Regions from separate parts of the Homo sapiens genome. Here regions 2 and 3 are each linked to region 1. The links come from fine-mapping of genetic effects on gene expression. A gene starts in region 1. Each other region holds a variant in brackets. All regions are shown on one strand. Distances are between the middles of the regions.

Region 1 (7,708 bases):
GCGTGGTGGTGTACGCCTGTAATCCCAGCTACTCGAGAGGCTGAGGCAGGAAAATTGCTTGAACCGAGAAGTCAGAGGTTGTAGTGCAACCTCTGCACCACTGCACTCCAGCCTAGGTGACAGACACTCTGTCTCAAAAAAATAAAAAATAAAAAAAGTGGTTTGTGTAGTATCATCATATTTAGTGCCTTTCTCGGTGAATGATATAACTTGGACGTTCTTCCATGTCAGATAGCTCTACCTCATTCTTTCTGGTGACTTCATAGTGTGCCAGCATGAGTCTATGCCACAATTTACTTAGCATAGCTCCTAGTGCTGGGCATTGAGGTTGGTGACCACTTTTCACCGTTACAATTAATCAGCAATGAAAACCCTTGGACGTTCTGTTCCTGAGCACATGTGTGAGTTGTTCTGCATGATGATCTATTTCTATAAGCTGATTTTCCAGCCTCACTTTCATTGATGTGCCTGGAAAGTCAGTAGCATGACAGACTGGGGTCTTGGTCACTAACCAGGGACAGTCGAATATTTTAAAACTGTCGTTATTTACCCATTCAGCCAGAAAGAATAAAAATGTAATGCCACGGGAATTCTCAGAACAGCATCCTCTCCTCTTTGAATTCAGGCTTTCAGAACTAGACAGGCTAATGCTCCCACAACTCATGTTCAGGCCACACTGGGTACTTTGTCACATACTAGTTCACCTGATCCCCGAGTTGGTCCTGGAAAATAGGTATTATTAGCATAGAAATGCTAATAATTTTTTTTTGACACATGAGGAAACTGAGGCTCAGAGAGGACAAGACATCTGCCCAGGGTCACACAACTCACAAATAGCAGAGGATTCAGAAACCAAAGACAAAGGTGATGGAATCCTGCCTTCTTTCTAAATCCGTGATGTAGGCTAGATCATGGTGCCTCTTCAGAAGTTTACAGTGGACAGTTAGCCAAAAAAGCAGGTGAAGTGAACATCTGCCTAGGTGACTGAGTTTGCAGGATGTATTAGTTTCCTCCCGCTGCTGTGACAAATTGACCCAAACTTCATGGCTTAGAACAACACAGTGAACTATCTTCTTACAGTTCTGGAGGTCAGATGTCCAAAACGGATCTGCAAATGCCTTCCCACCTTCAAATCATAAGGCAGACCCAAACTTGCCTTTTTGTGGATGCCAAGAGCTCCTTCTGGATGCTCTGGCTGACACTCCATTCCTTTCCTTTTCTAGCTCCTAGAGGCTGCCCACATTCCTTGGCTACTGACCCTTGTCCAGCAACTGTATCATTCTGATCTCTACTTCTATCACCACATCTCCCTCTCTAACTCTGACCCTCCCGCTTCCCTCTTGTAGGAACCCTTTTGACAACATTGGACCCACCAGGAAAATCAAGGATAACCTCCCCGTCCCAACATCTTTAACTTGATCCCATCTGCAAAGTCCCTTTTGCCACGTAAAGTAACCAGTTCTGGGGATCAGGTTGTGAACATCTTTGGGCAGCCATTATTCTGCCTATCACAGAAGGGGGTTCCTAGCTTAGTGATTTAGAGCAAGGGCCCTGCAAAGACCCCAGATTCAAATACTTTGTCACTTGCTAGCAGATCCAGGTACCTAACTTCTCTGAGTCTTAACAGCCTCATCTGAAAAACTAGAATAATAGAATCTTCCTTCTAGGGCTGTTTTGAAAACCAAAGAACACAATGTATGCAGTGCACGTGAAACACAGGGTTCAATAAATGGTAGGGAAGATTCAGAGAAACTAACCATGTAGAGGGAGAGGGCTGTGGAGGAGAGGAGGATAAGGAGAGGCATGCTTCCTTTGGTAGCTTCTTCAGTTTTGCCTGGGCCTCAGCTTTGCCTGAGAATTTCGTCAGTCTCTCCCCAGATCAGCCAGGGTGAGCCTGCTTAAATGGAACACTCTGAAGATGATATCCTGTGATAAACAAGACCTGCCCAGTTGAGTCTGCAGCAGAGTGGGGCGGGTCTGGGATGACCCTGGCATGGAAAAGTACAGCAGCTCTTTGTCTTCAGATTAGGAGCTGGGACAGCTGTTCTGACATGATCACCCCCCGCCCCCACCCCAGGCCTCTCCAAAGTCCATCTTGCAGAGTCAAATGAAAACCAGATTCCTGGTCTTATCTGAGAGCTACGTGACTGTTTCCTGTCACTCCTTTGGAGCCTGGGAAGGTCCCCACATGCATTGTCTAAACTTTGGGATGAATACGCACAGCTCTTAAATGGGAGCATATTATTATAGGTACCTGCCTACACAAAGGGTCCTCCCTATTCACTAAAATCATGGGTTATTATTTAGGGCTTTCATTCATCCAACAAATGTTTATTCCGCATTTGCAGGTGGCCAGGCAAGGTGAACATTCTCTCAGGGTGGAGAGTATGTGCAGACAGGAGGAATTATGCTATGGGAGGGAGAGCAGAAGCTCTGGAGTGGATCATCTTGGGTCTAGATCCTGATACTTCCCAGCTGTGTTTTCACTGGGCAAAATGACCTCACCTCCTTAAGCCTCAGCCTTCTCTTCTATAAAGTGGGCATAACAAATAACCGCCTCCTAGGTTATGAGGATTAAATGAGATGGTTCAGGGGATGTGGGTGGTAACCCCGCCCCTGGTTCATAGCAAGGATGTGAGGAATAGCAGTTGCTGTCATAGACATGGAGACTGTTTCCCCAAATGCCTTCCCACCCCCAAATCATAAGGCAGACCCAAACTTGCCTTTTTGTGGACGCCAAGGTTCTGTCGAGCTGTTAGGGTGCAAGTTAAGAAGCCAGAATGGCGGGCTGAGGGGAGAAATGCCCGCATGTTACAACTCTGCAGGTGTACACACGTGGACACCATATGTACCCATGAATTCCGCCTTTGGAAGTGAACTTGATTGCAGCCTATTTTCGTCTGGAGGCGGTGGATTCCCGGTAGGAGGCGCCTTCAGTCCTCGGCTCGATCCTGTGACGCCAGCCAGCTGCCTATCGGCTTCTCAGTGTTTGAACTTCAAAGGGCTGGACGCTCACCCAAGAAGGGGACCCCGGCCTGACCTCTCTCGGAATTCAAAAAAATCTAAGGCTCAGAGAGGGAATGGGAGCTGGCTCTTCCCTCTGTGTTTAGCATCCACGTTTTTTGGCGGTCTGGCTGAAACCAGCCCACCCTAGTTCGGGCGCCAGAGCAACGCAGTTCCGAGGGCAGATCTCCAAGGGGCGGAGGCAGAGCCGCGGGTGAGAGGCTTCCGCGCCGACTTCGGGTTTGCACTCCCCGGAGCCAGAACTCCGTGGCGGCTCCGGGCCTCCGTGGATCCGAGCAGAGACTGGCTGCCCGCCTGCCACTCGCAGGCTGGGAAAACGCCAGCCGGTGCCTCGCCGGGAAAGTTCTCGGCAAAGCTGGGGATGAGCCCTCAGCAGGGCAGGCTCCCGGTGCAGCGCGCCCCCATCCATTGCCCGCGCGCAAGAACCCGGAATGGGCCCCACCTGGGCCGGGACTCGGGCGTGCGATCCCGAGGGCGCCCTGGGGACCACGCATCGGGTGGGGACCCTGGCCGAGGGCGTGAGCTGACTCAGTTTTTAAAAACTCGCTTCCTCCTTCCCTACTTGTGCCGGTCACTCACCTCGCTGGGAACCAGCCCAGGGCAGAAGGGGGAGAGGGAGGCGGTGGCCTCCCCAGGAAGGAGGAGAGGTGAGTATCCCGCCAGGTAAAGGCGGGGCGGCTGGCGGAGCTGTGCCTCGGCGTCTGCGCCTGGTGTGGGAGGAAAGCGGGTCTCCCAGCTCCACTTAAACCCCTAAAACCTGGGACTTCTAGCTTGAGACATTCCCCGACCACCACCCGTCACACACACGCGCGTGCGCGCACACACGCATGCACACCGATTCTCTGGGCCCTAGGGAGGAGGGGGGATCAGGGCTCTATTTTCTCCCGACCCCCTCTTATCCAACTCGGCTGGCAAGGGTTGGGGAGAACTTAGGCCCAGCCCCCGGCACACGCTCAGCGCGCTCCAGCGGCATACGCTGGGGAGTGGGTGCCCGCCTCGCTCAGCTGCGATCCCTCGCCTCGGGCCCGGGGGTGGTGCCGAGGGCCGGGAGGGAGGGTCGGCCGGTGGGCGGTGCTTCTCCGGGCTGGAGGCCGCTCCTGGCCGGCACCGCCCTCCGCCTCCCGCGGTCCCTCCCTCCCGCACGCCGGCGCTCCCAGGCCGCGCTTCCTGCGTCCCCAACCCGGTCCCTGAGAGGGCAGTGCGCCCTCTCCACCACTGCGTTCCCTCGGCTAAGAATCCCCCGAACCCCAGCCCCGCGATCGCGGCGCCCACCGAGGAGGCCGCCCGGGTGGGGCGCGGGGGTCGCGAAGCCCGCAGTCCCGGACCGCCCAGCCGAGACGGAGCCGGACCCGCCGCCTCCCGGGTGAGTCTCAGCCGCCGCGCCTTGCGCCCGCTGCTTCCCGCGGCGCGCTGTCGGTTCCCCACAGGGCCGTGTAAGGGGGCCGAGGCCCGTTTGGGTCTCCTGTCCGTCCGTCTGTCCGCCGAGCGCTTCCCGCCTGGGGTCGACCACCGGGAGGACTCCGCACCCCGCACCCTCTGCGGCCGCGCCCCGCCGGCGCGGGACGCTCCCGCCTCCCGGGCACCGCGCCTGGCCAGCTGGCCTCGGCTGGGGAAGGCAGCTGGCCTTGGGGGCCCCCTGTTGGCGGGAACAGGTGCTATCCGCCCGGCGGGCTTCGAACCCTTGGCTTCGCCAGAAGCGCTTTCAGCGCGTGGTTAGGAGCAGAACTTCCCAGTAGGTCCCAGGAAACCACCTTGGCGCTTTGCTCGCGCATCCCTTACTGTATGGAAGTCGGGGCCTTTTAGGGATTTAGATTCGTGTGTGTGTATGTGTGTGTGTCGCTCTACAAGCAAACACGGGGGTAAAGAATCGGGCATGAGCAAAGTGGATTGAAACTCGAGTCCTTCCCTGAGCGCGTCGGTTTCTTCATCTGTGAAACTGACATGACAACGTCCCAGGGTGCGGCGGGGCATTCATGCCCAGCACCCAGCAAGCACTCAGCGGTAAGTTACGTTACCGGGCCTAGGGGAGAGCAGAGTACAAATCAGATCTCAAATCAGCGCACAAACGGGAGGCGCTTGGCCCGGCGCGCCTGGTCTGCATTACAGGATAATGGTCTCTTTCCCAACCAGCGGTGGGGGCGAGAGACCTGGCCCCTCCCCCACGGTTTCCCCAGGGAGCAGCCCGTGGGGTGTCCTGCGCAGCGCTCCGAGGTGCCTGTGACGGTGCATGGGACTGCGGGTCCTTCCCAACAGCAGGGGAGGTCTGGCTGCTGGGAACCCGGGCGCTGCCGGAGTGGGGTGGGCGGGGACGAGGTGGGCGGGGCAGGGACCCGAACCGGGAGGTAAGTCAGCGGGTGGAAGGCTTTCCCCTCTAGGACCGGCCGGCTTCTGGCTTTCCTTTTGAATGGGTTACCCGGAGAACAGCTTGTCTAGGGAACTGTTGGCCCTGGGACCGTGAACAGCTTTCACACCCCGGAAACCTGTCACAAGAGGATCCTGACCTATTGGGACAGAGCCCCTGCCCCTCCAAATATCTCACTCCACCAATTGAGAGGTACCCCCAGACTGGGAGAAAAGGCCAAAGAAAGAGAGAGGAGGCTAGTGGTGAACCTGCTCCTCACGGCTTCGGAGCTGACAGCTCTCTGATGGGGTGTCTGGGGCCTGCCCCAGTGACCCAGAGCCCAGAAGCCTCAGGGAGCCCCCAGCCTAGTGAGGGAGTCAGGGATACTCATGAAAAGTGTTGCAGAATTGGCGATACAGTCAGGCCACACCACTTGCTGGCTGTGTGACCTGACCTCTCTGAGCCTCAGCTTCTTCATCTGTAAAATGGGATGATGATCTCCAAGGGCGAGGTGGGGTATTTATGCCTAGCACATGAAGTATTCTATAGTAAGTTATGTCACAGGGCTTAGACGAGAACAGAAGAAAGGAAATAACTCAGGAGGTCCTGCTAAGAAAAGAGTATTAGAATATTCATCAGGGAACTGGAGTCCCCCCAGGGAACAGGGGAGGAAGGGTGTCTGGGCAGATCGAACAGCACAGGCAAAGGCACAGCGACAGGAGAGTGCCTGGGGTGTGCTGGGCTGGGGAAGGTGCTCAGGCAGTGGAGGGTGTGGAAAAGTAAAGGGAATGGAAGGTCCGGAGTGAGCTGGACTGGACAGGTGGGGGCTTTCTTGGAATCATTCAACATATGTTGGCCGAGCACCTTCTGTGGGCCAGGCGCTGTTCTAGGTGCTCAACAAAGATGAACAACATGGAGAAAGACGTCCCTTTCATTCAAGTTCTCTAAGCAGGGAAGTCGTCTGATCCCATCCATATGTTAAGAAGATAATCCTGGCTGCCTGGAAGTTGGCGAGGATCCTAGAGAAGACTCCTAGGAGAGAGAGGCTGGCCTGTGGGTTGGTGGGGGCAGTGGGAATGAATGGGGGAGCTGGAGGAGAGGCCCATACAGGAAGCAGAGAGTAATGTGTGGCCTTCACTCATGACTGTTGGTCAAGGGTAAGATTCTGGGGTTCTACATGAGGCCCAAACTGCCAGCCTGGTCCCCTGCCAGAGAGAAGTAGTGAGTGAGTGTCTGGGGTATTGGCAGGACCCAAGCCCCTCCAGCTGCGACTCTCCGGCTCGCTGGCTCCAGATGTCACGAGGCCTGGGAGTTTCTCTGTCTGCGTGAGGGATGGGAAAGCTGGAGGCAGAGGCCAGCTGGAGCTTCTGGGGCTCCCGTTTTAATAGGTTGTGTTTCTGGTCAACGTTCCTCCCTCCCTCTGCAGGCCTGGCTGTAAACCCCTCAGGCTTCTTGGGCTGGAAGAGGCCAGAGTGTGAGGAGCTTTAGTGTGGATTCTCTTCCCCCAGCCCCAAATTAAGGTGGGAGTCATGCAAAAGAGAAGCATTGTCTCCCTCGGTGCTGGGAAAGTTTCAGAAGCTCAGGTGTCTTCTGACTTGGGATGTGGTATGGGGGCTGCTGACTTTTGCTTTCACTTTTGTTTCTGCTCTGAAGCTGGGAGGAATCCTCCTCTTGCAGCGAAAGCTGTGAGAATATCCTTCTCCATGCTTCAAGTCTCCCTTTGCTTGGAGGGAAAAGGAAGGTCCTAGAATGTCTCAGGTGGAGGGGACCTTCAGGTCATCAGAGACATCATTCTCATTTGACAAACAAAACTCAGAGAGGGGATGGGACTTACCCAAGGACACACAACAGTTCAGCAGCAGAACTGGGACTGGAACCCAGCCCTCCTGACTCCCTTCTAGGGCCCTTTACTTTAACCCAGGAGACCTGGCCACATTCGGGACCAAGACTGTTTTGGGCCCCAGGTTTCTCAACCTCTCAGTCTTTCAAGCGGCTTCATAGAGTTGAGCTCCTCCCCAGCCTGGACAGGTGGTGCAGCCTCCCCTGCCAATGTTTTATTCTCCCTTCCTCTGGATTGAGCCCTCGCTGCCATGGCCACCCCTCCTGGGAGCTCTTGCTCCTGAGAAAGAAAACAGGCCGTTTGTTTGGAAGAAACAAGCCACCTGTTTGGTTTCCCAATACCAGGCCACACAGCCCTGTCCCTCCCAGACAGCCCCAAGATGCTGACCAGAGATAGCCCTCTGAGGGTCTCTGCTGAGCTCCCCTGACCCTCGACTCCTCCCCTCAGCTCCCGTCTCAAGACTGCTGGTTGGTCCTCACCTTCTGTCTGTGGTGTTTACTTGG
Region 2 (7,708 bases), 92 kb after region 1:
CCGTCTCTACTAAAAATACAAAAAGTAGCCGGGCATGGTGGCGTGTGGCTGTAGTCCCAGCTACTCAGGCGGCTGAAGCAGGAGAATCGCTTGAACCCGGGAGGAGGAGGTTGCAGTGAGCCGAGATCGCACCACTGCACTCCAGCCTGGGCAACAGAGCAAGACTCCATCTAAAAAAAAAAAAAAAAAAAAAAGTTTACAAAAAGTACAGCACTTTGTAATCTGGCAGCCAGAGTTTGAATTCCAGAACCACCATGTGCAAGATTTGTAACTGGTTAAGTTACTTGACTTTTCTGTGCCTCAATTTCTCTTTCTGTATAATGAGTTGGGCTAAGAACTAAATAAAACTGTGCATGACATGGTGGTTGGTACCTTGTTAGCTTTAATAAATATGAGCTGAATTTGTTAACCACATTCATAAAGGTTCACTGTCACTCAAAAAAATATAGTGAAGGTTTGCCCACATGCCTGGAAGTAGAATTTATGGAGTTGTCCAGCAGGTGCCACCCCATAGAGACTGCTGGGTTCCCAAGAATCACCTCTAGTTGTGACTAGAGGAAGGAGCACATCCTATCTCTTATATCCATATCCACATATAGAAAGGTCTCAGAGCAGCCGGCCAGATAATATGAGACTAGTCATCCAGAGATCAGGTTTGTTCTGGAGTAGGACTGAGTCTTGATGCAAATCAAAGTTTCTCCAGAGTGTTTGTGACCTGGGTTGAGATTGGGGCTCTCTTCGCACAGCATCAGAGAAAAAGAAAACAGGCAATAATCGTAAACACTCATAGAGCCATTCAGTTGTACCAGCCACTGATCCATTGTTTCATACGTCTTAACCCATTTAATCCTTTCAATAAAATGGATTGTTGTATACCCATTTTACAGGTGAGGGAAGTGAGGCACAAACAAAATACAACAAAAACCAGGCCCAGGACAGGTGGGGCCAGCACACTTTGCAGTTTTTGAACGGATGGTACAGACAGACCCCCCCACAGCAAAGCGCAAGGAACCAAGGGGAACTGACTTTGAAAAATGATTTGCAAGATAACTGAATGCTCCAAACCAGCATGAAAGAGTCGACATGAGACGAAGCTCCATATTTTCTCATTTTCTGCCACGGGAAAAGGCAAGGATGGCTGCAGAAAGCCTCAGTTGCCAGTTATTCTCTCCATGGTTTGAAATTATTTTCATGAGTCTCTGTGTGTAGGTCTGTATATAAAAATCTGTACTTTCTAAGCTTATATGGTCAGGTTACTAATGGGCCGTGGAGTCTCTAGTGGGCCCTCTGCTCTCTGTCATCCGTCACCCTGCGCAACAGCTTGGCTATTTCCTGCACTCTTTACTCTCTTGTTCTTGCTCTTTCTCTGGCTCTCTTTCATGCCATAGAGGCTGAGGAAGCCTCCACACCTCTCCTGGCCGCGGCTGGGGCCTGAAGCCAGCATTCATTTCATGTTGGAATGCAAGGGCAGCAGGAGAAACATCACACAGTTCTCTGAGGATGGAGCACAGGGTTAGGCTCTCCCCAGGCAAGAACAGCCCAGAGAAGGTGGCTGGGAAGGAATGAGATTTTACGGGGGCAGAAGTTCTGCAGGAACGAAGCCTAGTGCCCAATGTCAGCAGGTAATGTGGGTGGCAGGCCTAAGCTGCCTCCTCTGGGCTTATGCCCCCTTCACTCCCTGCCCTGGGCACTGCCTGAACCTTTGGACAGACAAGAGTGCAGGCTGCTCAGAAGTGAGAGAAAGCAGTTGTGAGTAAGTGGCATCTTGTGATTGTGACAGCTGTCACCTGTAGTTCCCCAGGGGAAATACCTTCCTTGTCACATTCATCTCGATTCAAATCCTGCCAGATTTTCTAGCTGTGTGACTTTAGGCAGATTTCTCCCTGTCTCTGAGCCTTATTTCCTACAATATGGGCTTCGTCGTCACCAAGAGTTCAATAAAAGGTTAACTGTAGGCACTGCCAAGAAGCACAAGTAATCTAGAAACATCTATTTTTTTTTTTCAGGGACAGTATTTTTAATGCCGCATCACTGTTTAATTGCAATGTACAACTCTCTTACTCAGCCCAGGAAATTATATCATAAAACCCTAAGTTATTGGGTATTTGATTTTCTGTTTTTGAAATGAAAATGGATGATACGGAATTGGGTTTCAAGAACTTTGCACACCCTTGAGATAACAGTGGCATCCTGAGGGACAGAGGATCCAATTAAGATTTGGCAACTTCGGCTCCACTGATTCTGAGTGTCAGCTTTGCTCTCAGTTTAGGATTTTTTGTTTTTCATTGAGATATCAGCTAACAGCAACAGATGATCTCTCAAAGCCTGGTGAGGGGCATGGGCTGTTCCAGCTCATGGCCAGCCTGGGTTTCACTGGGGTCTGTCTGATAGCAAGTTTGTGTCCTGGGTTCATGTTAATGACAAGAGTTTGACCAAAGACAAGCATGGAGGGGTGGTGGTAGGGATGGAGGTGGTGTTCAGGCCTGGGCAGGGGACTAGAGAAGCCGACATCCTGGGGCGAGGACAGGTCAGCCCAGCAGTCCTCAGAGGACAGGAGGCCGGGCTTCAGAAGGGTGGCAGGGGCTTCCCCCTGCATATTTATTCATTCAGACATTGTTCTAGGGACTGGTGGCACAGCAGCAAACAAAACATGAAAAAAGAAATTCCTGCTTTCATGGAGTTTAGATTCTACCAGGGGTCAGGGAGGGAGACACAATAAATAACATAAATAAATAAAGAAATAGTATGTGAGTTGATGATAAGTGATGTATTAGTCCATTTGTGTTGCTATCAAGTAATACCTGAGGCTGTGTCATTTATCCAGAAAAGAGGTTTATTTGGCTCACAGTTCTGCAGGTTGTACAAGAAGCATGGTGCCAGCATCTGCCTCTGGTGAGGGTCTCAGGCTGCTTCCACTCCTGGCAGAAAGTAGCGCCTGCATGTGCAGAGATCACATGATGAGAGAGGAAGTGAGAGTGAGCGAGGGGGAGGTGCCAGGCTCTTTCTAACAATCAGCTCTTTAGGAAACTGATAGAGTGAGAACTCATGCACCCTACAGGAACAGCACCAAGCCATCCATGAGGGATTCGCCCGCATGATCCAAGCACCTCCCGCCAGGCCCCACCTCCAACACTGAGGAGCAAATTTCAACATGAGATTTGGAGGGGTCAAATATTCTAACTATAGCAAGTGGCAAAAAGAAGGGAAGAGGGATAGAGTGTTGAGGTTTTTATTTTGTTTGGATGTGCTTTTGTTGTTCTTATTTTTATTTGCTTTTGTTGTTCTTATTTTTATTTGCTTTTGCTGTTCTTATTGTTTTTATTTGCTCTTTTTTGTTGTTTATTAGATTTCATGGTGGTTGTTTCATTGTTTCAAAAAACCAATTTTAGAAAAGATGATATGTGAGTAAAAAGCTAAAGTAAAGAAGGCAAAGGAGACTCTTGAGGGGAAGTGCATTCCAGGCAGAGGAATGGGCAAGAGCAAAGGCTCTGAGGCAGAAACGTGTGGGAAGCTGAGCTTGACCCTCTCTGTTCCTGTGAAGCCATCACTTGGGTCCCAGCCCTTGTGGTCCCTCCTAACATTTTACGCCTAGAATCTTTCTGGTTGTAGGAAACTGATCCAGGCAGAACCTTCCAGACTGAGGGCCTGGAAGAGATTTGTAGGGACAGGCTCCGGGAGAGGTCTCTGCAGTTCAGCTGCATAAATCAGGGTTTTGTCAAGCTTGTTGCAAATGCACATTCCTGGATTATGTCCCAGGCCTGCTAAATCAGAATCTCTGGGGTCTGTGCCCAGAAGTCCGCATTTCTAAAAGCCTCCAGGCACGTTTGAGCATCTTCACTGTATATTCCACCACAAATCGATGTCCATGATTTCTCTCTCAGATCCTCTTCCTATTGACTAGGTGTATTAGTCTGTTCTCACACTGCTATAAAGTAATTCCTTGAGACTGAATAATTTACAAAGAAAAGAAGTTTAATTGACTCACAGTTCTGCACTGCTAGGGAGGCCTCAGGAAACTTACAGTTATGG[C/T]GGAAGGCCAAGGGGAAGCAAGGAAGCTAGCATGTTGTAACATGGTGTAGCAGGAGAGAGAGAGAGCAAAGGGGGAAGTGCCACACTTTTAAACCATCAGATCTCATGAGAACTCACTCGCTATCATGAGAAAAGCAAGCGGGAAGTCTGCCCCCATGATTCAATCACCTCCCACCAGGCCCCTCTTCCAACACGTGGGGAGTGCAATTCGAGATGAAATTTGGGTGGGGACACACAGCCAAACCGTATCACTAGGGTAGAATGTGCCATAGTTCATCTCTCTTAGAAAAACGTTTAGAGTTTTTCTTGAGGTGTCTGGTCAGCCATTTCCTGCCAGTGAAAGGAATCACTCTCCAGGTAGAGTCAGCAGGAGATAGGATTTCCTGCTGGAGATAGTGGCGGGAGATAGGATTTGCACATCTGCTCAACACACTCCATCCCGCGAGTCCTGTGCCGGCTGACAAGCGGTTTCTTAAGGACAGTAACTGTTCCAGGTGTATTCTGGGATCAGCGTGTGACACTCATAGGACTCAAAAGATGTTTGCAGAGATAGAGAAAGGGCAAAAGAATGAATAAATGTCACTCTTAACAGGGAGGAGCAGAGGCAGCAGGATTGTGAGTTTGGAAATATTTTTTCCCCAGCACATGGAAGAAATCCTCATTCTTTCAAAATTTTTCATTCCACCCCATCCCTTTCCCAATCCCCACCCCACTCCCAGAGATCCCCTCTTCTTACTCTTTCTATTTTCTGGCCTGTAACGGAAAGGACTAGAGATTTGGGTAGGGCAGGGGGCATACTAACCTCCAAGGGTCTCATGAGTTCAGCTCCATCAATCTCCTACCTCTCCCTATCGCCCCCGACCCTCCCTCAACGCATCCAGCTTACAGTGAGGGGTAATGGAAAGGATTCTTGAATCAAATCTCCTCCCTGCTCCTTCCTCGCTGTAAAACCTTGGGCCATTTCTGTGACCTCTGAGCCTCCGCTTTCCTATCTGTGAAATGGGGCAGGCTCGTGGGGCCTGGAGCATTCAGCAGGCGGTAACCCAGTGGGCGTTCCCTGCACGGTGCCACGCCCCCTCTGCCGCGCAGGCCACGCCCTCATCTATTAGGCTGGACCCCGCGGCGCCTGGCGGCGTTGCCATGGCAACGCGCGTACACAGGCCGGCCGGGCGGGCGGGGTGCCGGGTGCGAGCTGGAGACTCCGCGGGAGCGCGGCCGGGAGGCTTCGCCCCGGAGCTGGCCCGACGCCTCCCGAGCTGGCAGGGCTCTCGGCGGAGGTCGGAGCGTGGGCTTCCTCCTCCCGCCAGGTGAGTGCGGCGCGGGAAGGGGTGGCGGGCCGAGACCGGGGACCGGAAGGGGCGGCCCAGCGAGGACTAGCCCTGGCAGGAGGAGGGGTGGCTCCCCGGCCCCATCCTCCTGGATCCAGGCTCCGGTCCCCAGGAGCACCCCAGTAGCTACCCCAACACCAGCCCCTCCTTTCCAGATGCAGGCCCCACCCCGCCCGCGGAGGAAGCCCCCGGGAGCCTTAGACCCTCCTTGGCACCAGCCATGCCACTCTGGGAAGTCCTGGGGGTTACAGCTGGGATTAGGAGGGGCATCCCTGCTGCCCCTGACTTACGAACGACACCCACCCGGCGGTCAGAGAGACTCCCCCCTTGCCTAACCTCTCCCTTCCCAAATACAACACTGAGGAATTTCTAGGGCTCCCAGGCCACTTAAGATCTGGTAACCCCTCAACAGAAATTTTGCTTCTCTATCTCACTTGTGACCTATAAGCAGGGAGTGCAGATGCCTGAAGCTCTTTTGCTCTTTTGCATGGTCGGTGCCCTGTGTCTTAGAACTAATTTACAGAGTTTAACGCATCTAATCACTTTCTACAGTGTTTTCAGGTAGGAAAGTGACTGCACAGGGCAAGATTAAAGTGGGGAAATAGGGCCCAACCCATTCAGCTAAAGAAATAGACTTTTTTTTTTTTTTCCAGAATGTCATCTAGGATAAATACTGAAGGGGAAAATGAAAGGTAGTTACTGTCAGAGGTTCTTAGGCTACCCTGACTTACTTTTAAGCATTGTTTTGTACTTTCATTCATTCATGATTTACTGAGCACCACTATGTGTCAGGCATGGCAGCGCTGGGGGCCAGAGGGGAGTAATGAACAGACTGTGAGGAAATGCAAAGGGTCTGAGATTTTTACACTACTTGCAAGCTAAGTTAGCCTGCCACTGCTTAATGATGCTAGCAGAAGACCAGAGACTCCAGGACCAGAGACAAAGGATGTTATTACTCACAGCACAGCAGGCACTGTGAGCTCATGTTTGCGTTGGTTCCCCTTGCCCTGCAAGTACCCCGGGGTGATGCAGGACAGCTCAGGTGGATGCTGTGCACACTGCGAGTCTGTTTCCCAGCTAAGGAACCCCAAGCTCAGGAAACTCCAGTCTTTTAAAAGGGGCTGCTAGCCAGTGCCCAACCTTTGCCCTGGAAGGAGATGACCTTTTTTTTTTTTTTTTAATTGAGACAGAGTCTTGCTCTGTCTCCCAAGCTAGATAGAGTGCAGTGGCACAATCTCAGCTCACTGCAACCTCTGCTGCACGGTTTCAAGTGATTCTCCTGCCTCAGACTTCCGATTAGCTGGGACTACAGGTGCAAGCCACCATGCCCGGCTAATTTTTTTGTGTTTTTAGTAGAGACAGGGTTTCGCCATGTTGGCCAGGCTGGTCTCAAACTCCTGACCTCAGGTGATCCGTCCACCTGGGCCTCCCAAAGTGCTAGGATTACAGGCATGAGCCACCGTGCCCAGCCAGAGATGACATTTTTATCATAAATCTGCACTCTGCCCTGGATAGGGACACTATCCCTATCCTCTCAGGATATTTGCCCTACAGATGTCCTTGGAAGATTGTCTGGAACAAAATCTGTCAGTGTCTTTGCTCTGAAGATGGGTACAAACACAGGAAACCCATGGAGAATTGAGTTTAACAAAAACAACACAGTTTGGGCTCTCTTGGAACGTATCTCAGTGAAAGGGAAACAGTAAACAGCTAAGTAAAGAACAAGAAAATGACAGAGAATGATAAGCTCAAGGAAGGAGCCACAGCAGTGACACATGCTAGCTAGACAACAAAGTGACTGGTGACGCCTTTAGCTGGGGTGGTCAGGTAGCTACCGCAAGGCACCAGCTGTGGAAACATCGGGGGGAAGAGCTAAAAAAAAAAAAAAAGCCAGTCATTCAGATTTGGGGTTTTACTCTGGAGGCATTTCCTGTGGCTTTCCCACAAAAGAGACATTTCTCGAAAGTTGACTTTAGATTACTTTTACTTTAGTTTGGATGTGGTGCTTGATGATGTAGTCCTCTGCAATTGAAGATTAATAACTCAGGCAATTTGAGGGCAACAGGGCATGGTTCTTTTGGAAAAAGAAGTGTCTTTTTATCCCTATTAAAGACAGCAGACTTAAAAATAAAATTCTCATTATATGAAAGTATTAATATTTCTGAGGATTTCTCATAGGCTTCGGAATTTACAAACATAAACTATCTGGCTTGTTTTTATTTCTCTTACTCCCAAGGGTCTTTTCTTTTTTTGCAGAGGATAGAATTCTGGTGTTAAGGGCTATCTGTTATTTCATGTCCTAAGTGTCAACAAAACAGTGACAACCCCACTATCCCAAGTGACAACCTCTC
Region 3 (7,708 bases), 80 kb after region 1:
TTTTCCAGTTAAAAAAGTTTTAATGCCTAAAATTTTTCCAATGGCTGAAAGTAGTAAAAATCATCCACTCATCTTCCCTTAGGCCAATAATAGAAAGGTCTCACGGGGCAATATAGGAACCAGGAATAAGACCAGAGGGGGAGGAGGAGGAGAAGAACACCATTGACTAAGTCCTACGCATATGTTGAAGGCAGACTATCCCTTGCTCCTACTTCCTGGGTAGTAATTTCATAGACGTGTACATTATCATACACCCCTCCAGTGAATAAACACTGAATTAAATGGAATATGATTTTATCTCTGTGTATTGCTTCAACTCTGGGTTTCTGAACCTTGGCACTATTGACATTTTGGGCTGGGTAACCCTGACATGGGGCAAGGCGTGGCTAGGTGGAAGGCTGCTCTGTTCCTTACAGGAAGTTTACAGCATCCCTAGCCTCCACCACTAGATGCCAGAAGCACTGCCCAGGTGTGGCAATCAAAAATGTCCCGAAGCATTGTCAAAAGTCTCCTGGGGGCCTGGGTCAGGGCGCAAAATGCCCGTGGTTAAAAACTGTACAAACTGAAGCTTTAGGTCTACTGGCTACGGGGGGTTGCGGGGAGAATGTAGTATGGAGAAGTGGAAAAAAAGATTGTCATCTGAGCGGCAATTTCCATGTTTGAAAAACGAAATATTGATTATTGCGTTGGGCCACAAGACTGGGAGAATCAAATGAGTTAAATTATATGCTACAAAATGCTATAAAAAGTAGAATTTTAAAGAGAAATGCTTCTAGAGTTCATCTTGCTCAGCTTCCTTGTACAGGAAAGGAAAACCGAGTAAAAAGATGTTTCCCTAAAGACCACAGTAATGCTTCACAAACACAAATGATTATAATGAAATATTAAGTTGTTTCCACCCAGAAAAACAAACAACACAAGAACCAACCCAAATGCCATGATGCTGGCACCATGTGAGCATCAAACCAAATAGTGACTTCAATGGATTGAAACACATCTACATAATTCCAAATCAAATATTCCTGATGATACTTTTAAAAACTCATTGGTCACTTTGGGAAGTTGCTTGTTACTGTGAATATTGATACATAAAGGGAAAGAATCCATCATTTATTCTGCCTTTCCTGAACAAACTGTGTTTTACGGTAAACATATAATTGGCCAGGCGCAGTGACTCACGCCTGTAATCTCAACCCTTTGATAGGCCTAGGCTGGAGGATGCTTGAGCTCAGGAGTTTGAGATCAGTCTGGGCAACATGGAGAAACCGCGTCTCTACAACAAGTTTAAAAATTAGCTGAGTGTAGTGGTGTGTGCCTGTGGTCCCAGCTACTTGGGAGGCTGAGATGGAGGGATCACTTGAGCTCAGGAGGTTGAGGCTGCAGTGAGCCATGATAACACCACTACACTCCAGCCTGGGCAACAGAGTGAGACCCTGTCTCAAAAATAATAATAATAATAATAGTTGATGAAGAAAATGCATTGACAGTTGATGAAGAAGAATTCTAGCAATAATTAACAAAGGAATATCAGAAAGATCACTATTCTGCAACCTCAAAGGAAAGAATGGAGCTAGGGAATGATCCTCAAAGAATGCTAAAACTATTAGGTAAAAAGTTGATGAGGCCGGGCACAGTGGCTCACACCAGCAATCCCAACACTTCGGGAGGACGAGGCAGGAGGATCATTTGAGGTCAGGGGTTCAAGATCAGTCTTGCCAACATGGTGAAACCCCATCTCTACTAAAAATAAAAAAATTAGCCAGGCATAGTGGCACTTGCCTATAGTCCCAGCTACTCAGGAGACTGAGGCAGGAGAATTGCCCGAACCTGGAAGGTGGAGGTTGCAGTGAGCCGAGATCTTGCTACCGCACTCCAGCCTGGGTGACAGAGGGAGACTCCATCTCAAAAAAAGAAAAAAAAAATGTTGATAAGCCCAAGTGTCCACCGATGAATGAATGGACAAACAAAATATAGTCTATGCATACAATGAAATATTATTCAGCCTTAAAACAGATGGAAATTCTGACACATGCTACAACACGATGAACCTTGAGGACATTCTGCAGAGTGAAATAAGCTAGTCACAAACACACATACTGTGTGATGCCACTTATACGAAGTATCTAGAATAGCCAAACTCATAGAAACAGAAAGTACAATGATATTTCTCAGGGCCTGGGAGGAAGGGGAATTACAGAGCTAGTGTTTGGTGGGTACAGAGTTTCAGTTTTGCAAGATGAAAAAGCTCTGGAGGTTGGTTGCACAATGATGTAAATGTACTTAACACTACTGAACTGTACGCTAAAAATGATTCACATGGTAAATTGTATGTTATGTGTATTTTACCACAATTAAAAATAAAAACTGTCTGGGCCTGGTGGTTCATGCCTGTCATCCCAGCAATTTCGCAGGCCAAGGCAGGAGGATCACTTGAAGTCAGGAGTTCAAGACCAGCCCGGCCAACACGGTGAAACCCTGTCTCTACTAAAAGTAAAAAAATTAGCCAGGCATGGTGGTGTGCACCTGTAGTCCCAGCTACTTGGGAGGCTGAGGTGGGAGGATCACTTGAACCCAGGAGGCGGAGGTTGCAGTGAGGCGAGATCTTGCCACTGTACTCCAGCCTGGACATCAGAGCAAAATTCTATCTCAAAAAAAAATTAAACATAAAAATTAAAAGTCACTGGAGAAAAATTTGATGAGAACTTTATGATGGACAGATCAGCCTGTCAGCACTGATCCTACCTAGCCATCTTGGCATCATTAAAAAGGGCCAACCAAGATGTTACATGTCCACGATGTGACACAGGAGGAATCAAACAGCCTGCCTATGAAGTAGTCTTGACAACAAGAAGACCAGATCTCATCAGGCCTCGAGATTTCACTCTTAGTTTGCAGGAAACATGGGGAAGAGAGGAATAAGTTAATTGAAACTATGAAGAAGCAATCAGTCAAATCTATGGTGTGAATATTCTATAGGACGAAACACCCAGTTTCTCCAGCCGATCAGTGGTATGAAAAAGGTAGGGGATGCTGTTATGGAATAAAAAATATTTCAAAGACATAACAACCAAACACAACGTGTGGATGGCGTCTAGATCCCGATGTCAACAAATCATCAATACAACGACATCTCTCAGAGAATCAAGAAAGTGTGAGCATGGATGGATGTTAGACGATATTCAGGAACTGTTACTAGTATTGCTAGTGTGATAATGTCATGGGGAAAATAATGTCATAAAGGTGGGGAAGCTCCTTTTAGTCAGGAAGTATTTATGTATGAAATGACACAATGTGTTTTAAGTTAATCCAAAAGGAAGTTAATCAAAAAGGAAGAAAAAAGCGATAAAACAAGATTGGAGAAGTATCGAAGCTGGATTATGGGTACATGGGGTTAATGGTACTCTTTTCCCTACTTTTGTGTTGTATGTTTCAAAAAACTCCATTATAAACCCCAATTTTTTTCCATAGAGAAGCAATATGTTTATATTAAAAACTATAACTCTCTTCTATAAGACATTTCTAATGCAGACGTGAAGATTAATTTGATTTCTAGCTACTTCTAGCCCCCAAACTACCAGCATTTTTTTTAGTTTCAATTTTTATTTTAGACACAGTG[A/G]GTACATGTGCAGATTTGTACATGGGAATACTGCATGATGCCGAGGTTTGGAGTATGGATCCTGCCACACTGTCAGTGAGCACACCACCTGTTGAGTAGGTTTTTTTCTTTTTTCTTTTTTTTTTTTTTGAGATGGAGTCTCACTCTATCACCCAGGCTGGAGTGCAGTGGTGCAATCTCGGCTCACTGCAACCTCTGCCTACCGGGTTCAAGCAATTCTCCTGCCTCAGCCTCCCGAGTAGCTGTGACTACAGGCGCATGCCACCACGCCTGGCTAATTTTTTTGTGTTTTTAGTGGAGACAGGGTTTCATCGTGTTAGCCAGGATGGTCTCGATCTCCTGATCTCGTGATCTGCCCACCTCAGCCTCCCAAAGTGCTGGGATTACAGGCGTGAGCCACCATACCTGGCCCTGATGGATAGTTTTTTAACCCTCCTGCCCCCACACCCTCTAGGAGTCCACAGGGTCTATTGTCCCTATATATTTATGTCTGTGTGTGCTCAATGGTTAGCTCCCACTTCTAAGTGAGAACATGCCATAGTTTTATTTTCCTGAGTTAATTTGCTTAGGATTATGGCCTCCAGCTCCATCCATGTTGCTGCAAAGGACACAATCTCATTCTTTTTTATGGCTGCATAATATTCCATAATGCATATGTACCACATTTTCCTTATCCAATCTACTGACCACTGATGGGCACCTGGGTTGATTCCATGTCTTTGCTATAGTGAACAGCACAGTAATGAACTGACAAATGCATGTGTCTTTTTGGTAGAATGATTTATTTTCTTTTGAGTATATACTCAGTAATGAGATTGCTGGAGGACACCCAATTTTTTTAAGTAAGTAGTCCCAAAGGAACATACACACACACACACCATAGGCAGAGCTAGCTATAACCAAAGTATAAGCGAATGAGGAAGCCAGGAATTCCTGAGGATAAATACCTCCATCAGTGTGGAGAGTTAACAGGTACAGGAAATAAGAAGTCAGACCTCAGGCCTTTGCAAACTGAGCTAGCAAAATCTACAATGTCCATATTAAGCCAGGACCTTGAAAGGTGCTCTACCTCCTGAGAAAGGGAAGGCTTTAAGTGTATTTTTCTGGACTGCCAGAAAAGGGAGCGCATGGGCTCTGCAGGGTTTCTGGAGGGGAAAATTAACAATGGCCACCATAATAATGACGATTGTTAACCCTGAGGATTCGTAACCACATGGTACTAGGAATTAGTTTAACACTCCGTGCATTCAAGGGGGAAACTCCAAGCTGAAGAAGTAAATGTAAGGGATCACAGGTTGGTAGCAGCCCTGGCATCCAAATGAAACAAACAAAAATCATTCCTAGAGGAACGCAGCCAGAAATCAGACTCCTCAGGACTCCCGCAGATCAATTTCAATCAACACTGAGATCACATTCAAATTATTAACCCTCCAAGAAACAAGTCAGTATGAGCAAGAGTGAGCAGAAAGAACAAACAGTAGATTGAGACACTTCCTCGCACCCCAAGGACATCAGGTGTTGGAATTCCCAGATACTGATTCTACTTTGTATTAAATAGTTTTTAAAAGAAGGATTTAAAAATGAGCAAGGAATGAGATGATCAAAAATGGCCAGGCTCATCATCTGTAATCATGAGAGAAATGCAAATCAAAACCACAACGAGATACCATCTCACAACAGTCAGAATGGCTATTACTAAGAAGTCAAAAAAACAAACAAACAAAAACCAGAAGCTGTAGAGGATGTTGAGAAAAGGGAATGCTTATACACAGTTGGTGGGAATGTAAATTAGTTCCACCACTGTGGAAAGCAGTTTGGAGATTTCTCGAAGAACTTAAAACAGAGTTACCATTTGACCCAGCAATCCCATTGCCAGGATATACCCAAAAAGAAAAAGACCATTTTACCAAAAAGACACATACGCTCCTACGTTCATCGCAGCACTATTCACAATAGCAAAGACATGGAATCAACTTAGGTGCCCATCAATGGTGGATTGGATAAGGAAAATGTGGCACATATACACTACAGAATACTACGTAGCCATAAGAAAGAATGAGATCATGTCCTTTACAGCAACATGGTTGCAGCTAGAGGCCATTATCCTAAGTAAATTAACAAAGGAACAGAAAACCAAATACCGCATATTCTCACTTAGAAGGGGGAGCTAAACATTGAGCCCACATGAGCATAAACATGGGAACACTCAACACTGCAGACTACTTGAGGGGAAAGGAGGTGGGGGAGTGGGTTGAAAAAGTACCTATTTGATACTATACTCACTACCTGGGTGCAATGTGCCCATGTAACAAACCTGCACATTTACCCTCTGTATCTAAAATAAAAGTTGAATTTTTTTTTTTTTTTTTTGAGGCAGAGTCTCACTCTGTCGCTCAGGCTAGAGTGCAGTGGTGTGATCTCAGCTCACTGGAACCTCTGCCTCCCGGGTTCAAGCGATTCTCATGCCTCGGCCTCCAGAGTAGCTGGGATTACAGGCACCCGCCACCACGCCCGATTAATTTCTTTATTTTTAGTAGAGACATTTCACCATGTTGGCCAGGCTGGATTTGAACTCCTGACCTCAAGTGAGCCGCCGGCCTCGGCTTCCCAAAGTGCTGGGATTACAGGCGTGAGCCACTATGCCCAGCTAAAAGTTGAATTTTTTTAACGGCCAGGCATTTGACCTCAGAACTTTGTGGGAACACAGGGAGAACTACTTGACCCCTGTACTTTTAGCACTTCCATTCTGGTAGGATAAACAGATCCACATAATCAAAATACATCAGGGGTAAAAACTCAAGCAGTTATAGAACAGAGAAGGAATAAGAATAAGCGCGGCGGACAAGGAGGACACAGGCTGTACCTGGAGGCGGCAGCCTCTCCACACGCCTCACAGATTGTTGCTCTGTGTGCAGGAACAGAGCCCAAGTATTGCCTGATGTTCCAATTTCCCCAGAAAAGACATAAATCCAAATTGTAAAGTAAGTCAACGTGATTTGTACGTTAGCCACTGCAGGAGACACCTGAAGCTTCTGCCACCCAATATCAATTCACCTTTCTTCTAAAATATTACGGTGTTATGTATGATTCCCCTTTGGGGACCACCCCCTTTCCTGTTCTCAGCCCAGTCTCAGTCTCTTCCTGGTTGAGTTGACTCCATCTCCGGCTGCAGGGATGGGCATGTGACTCAAGCTTGGCCAATCAGAGCACAGCAGTCCCCCGGACCACACTAATTGGCTTAGAAACGGGCCTGTGAGTCAATCAGAGAAAATGAGAAGCCATGAGGCCTTTGGGAGAATCTTAGGAAAAAATTCTCTCTCATCCCCTTGGGATTCAAAGCTGAGAAGATGTAAGGACTGGAGCTGCAGCAGTCTTTCTGGGACCATTATACAGAGATTCTGTCTGAGGTTGGATCCACGTGGTCAAAAGTATTGCTGAGGAGCCAGAGAGAGACTGAGGTCTGATGACATCACTTGAGCCCTGCAGACTTTTCATTTACGGTAACCAGTTAATTTGCTTTCATGCTGAAGCTAGTTTGAACTGGGCTCTGATATGGTTTGGCTGTGTCTGCAACCAAATCTCATCTTGAATTGTAGTTCCCATAATCCACACATGTCGTGGAAGGGACCCAGTGGGAGGTAATTGAGTCATGAGGGCGGTTACCCTCGTGCTGTTCTCTTGACAGTGAGTGAGTTCTTGGAGACGTGATGGTTTTATAAGGGGCTTTCCCCTTTTGCTTGGCACTGCTCCTTGCTGCCGCCATGTTAAGAGGGACGCGTTTGCTTCCCCTTCCACCATGATCGTAAGTTTCCTGAGGCCTCCCTTGCCCTGCAGAACTGTGAGTCAATTAAACCTCTTTCCTTCATAAATTACCCAGTCTCAGGCAGCTCTTTATAGCAGCATAAGCATGGACTAATACAGGCTCTTTATCACTCCACAGAAAGAGGCTGTATCCTCCATCAACTAGTTGAAAGTATTTTAACACACTGTGAAAGCCAAAGAAACATGGAGGCTGACTGTGGCCTTCAGTTTGCAGTCTCAGCACCTGGCCCTGCCTCCCTCTGTCCCACGGTTGCGTAGCCTCCCTCATTC

The links. PIP is the estimated chance that this variant, and not a neighbour inherited with it, causes the effect.
Region 2: its variant is fine-mapped to the expression of TMEM51 in whole blood (TOPMed, PIP above 0.99).
Region 3: its variant is fine-mapped to the expression of TMEM51 in blood mononuclear cells (TOPMed, PIP above 0.99).

The regions. Positions count from the first base shown.
Region 1 is chr1:15,149,568-15,157,275 of GRCh38, forward strand. It overlaps TMEM51 (transmembrane protein 51), which reads left to right and starts at 4,180. Exons shown (of 4, transcript NM_001136218.2): 1 at 4,180-4,387. It overlaps TMEM51-AS1 (TMEM51 antisense RNA 1), which reads right to left and starts at 2,897. Exons shown (of 5, transcript NR_027136.1): 1 at 2,724-2,897. RefSeq lists silencers at 4,003-4,272, 4,333-4,382, 4,473-4,652 and enhancers at 4,362-5,023, 4,803-4,892, 5,024-5,685.
Region 2 is chr1:15,242,060-15,249,767 of GRCh38, forward strand. It overlaps FHAD1 (forkhead associated phosphopeptide binding domain 1), which reads left to right and starts at 5,164. Exons shown (of 34, transcript NM_001391957.1): 1 at 5,164-5,336. RefSeq lists silencers at 4,999-5,172, 5,190-5,429. The variant C/T (reference allele first, on the strand shown) is at 4,030.
Region 3 is chr1:15,229,646-15,237,353 of GRCh38, forward strand. It overlaps a transcript of FHAD1 not described here. Among named protein-coding and RNA genes, the nearest start is that of FHAD1, 14 kb to the right of the region's middle. The variant A/G (reference allele first, on the strand shown) is at 3,617.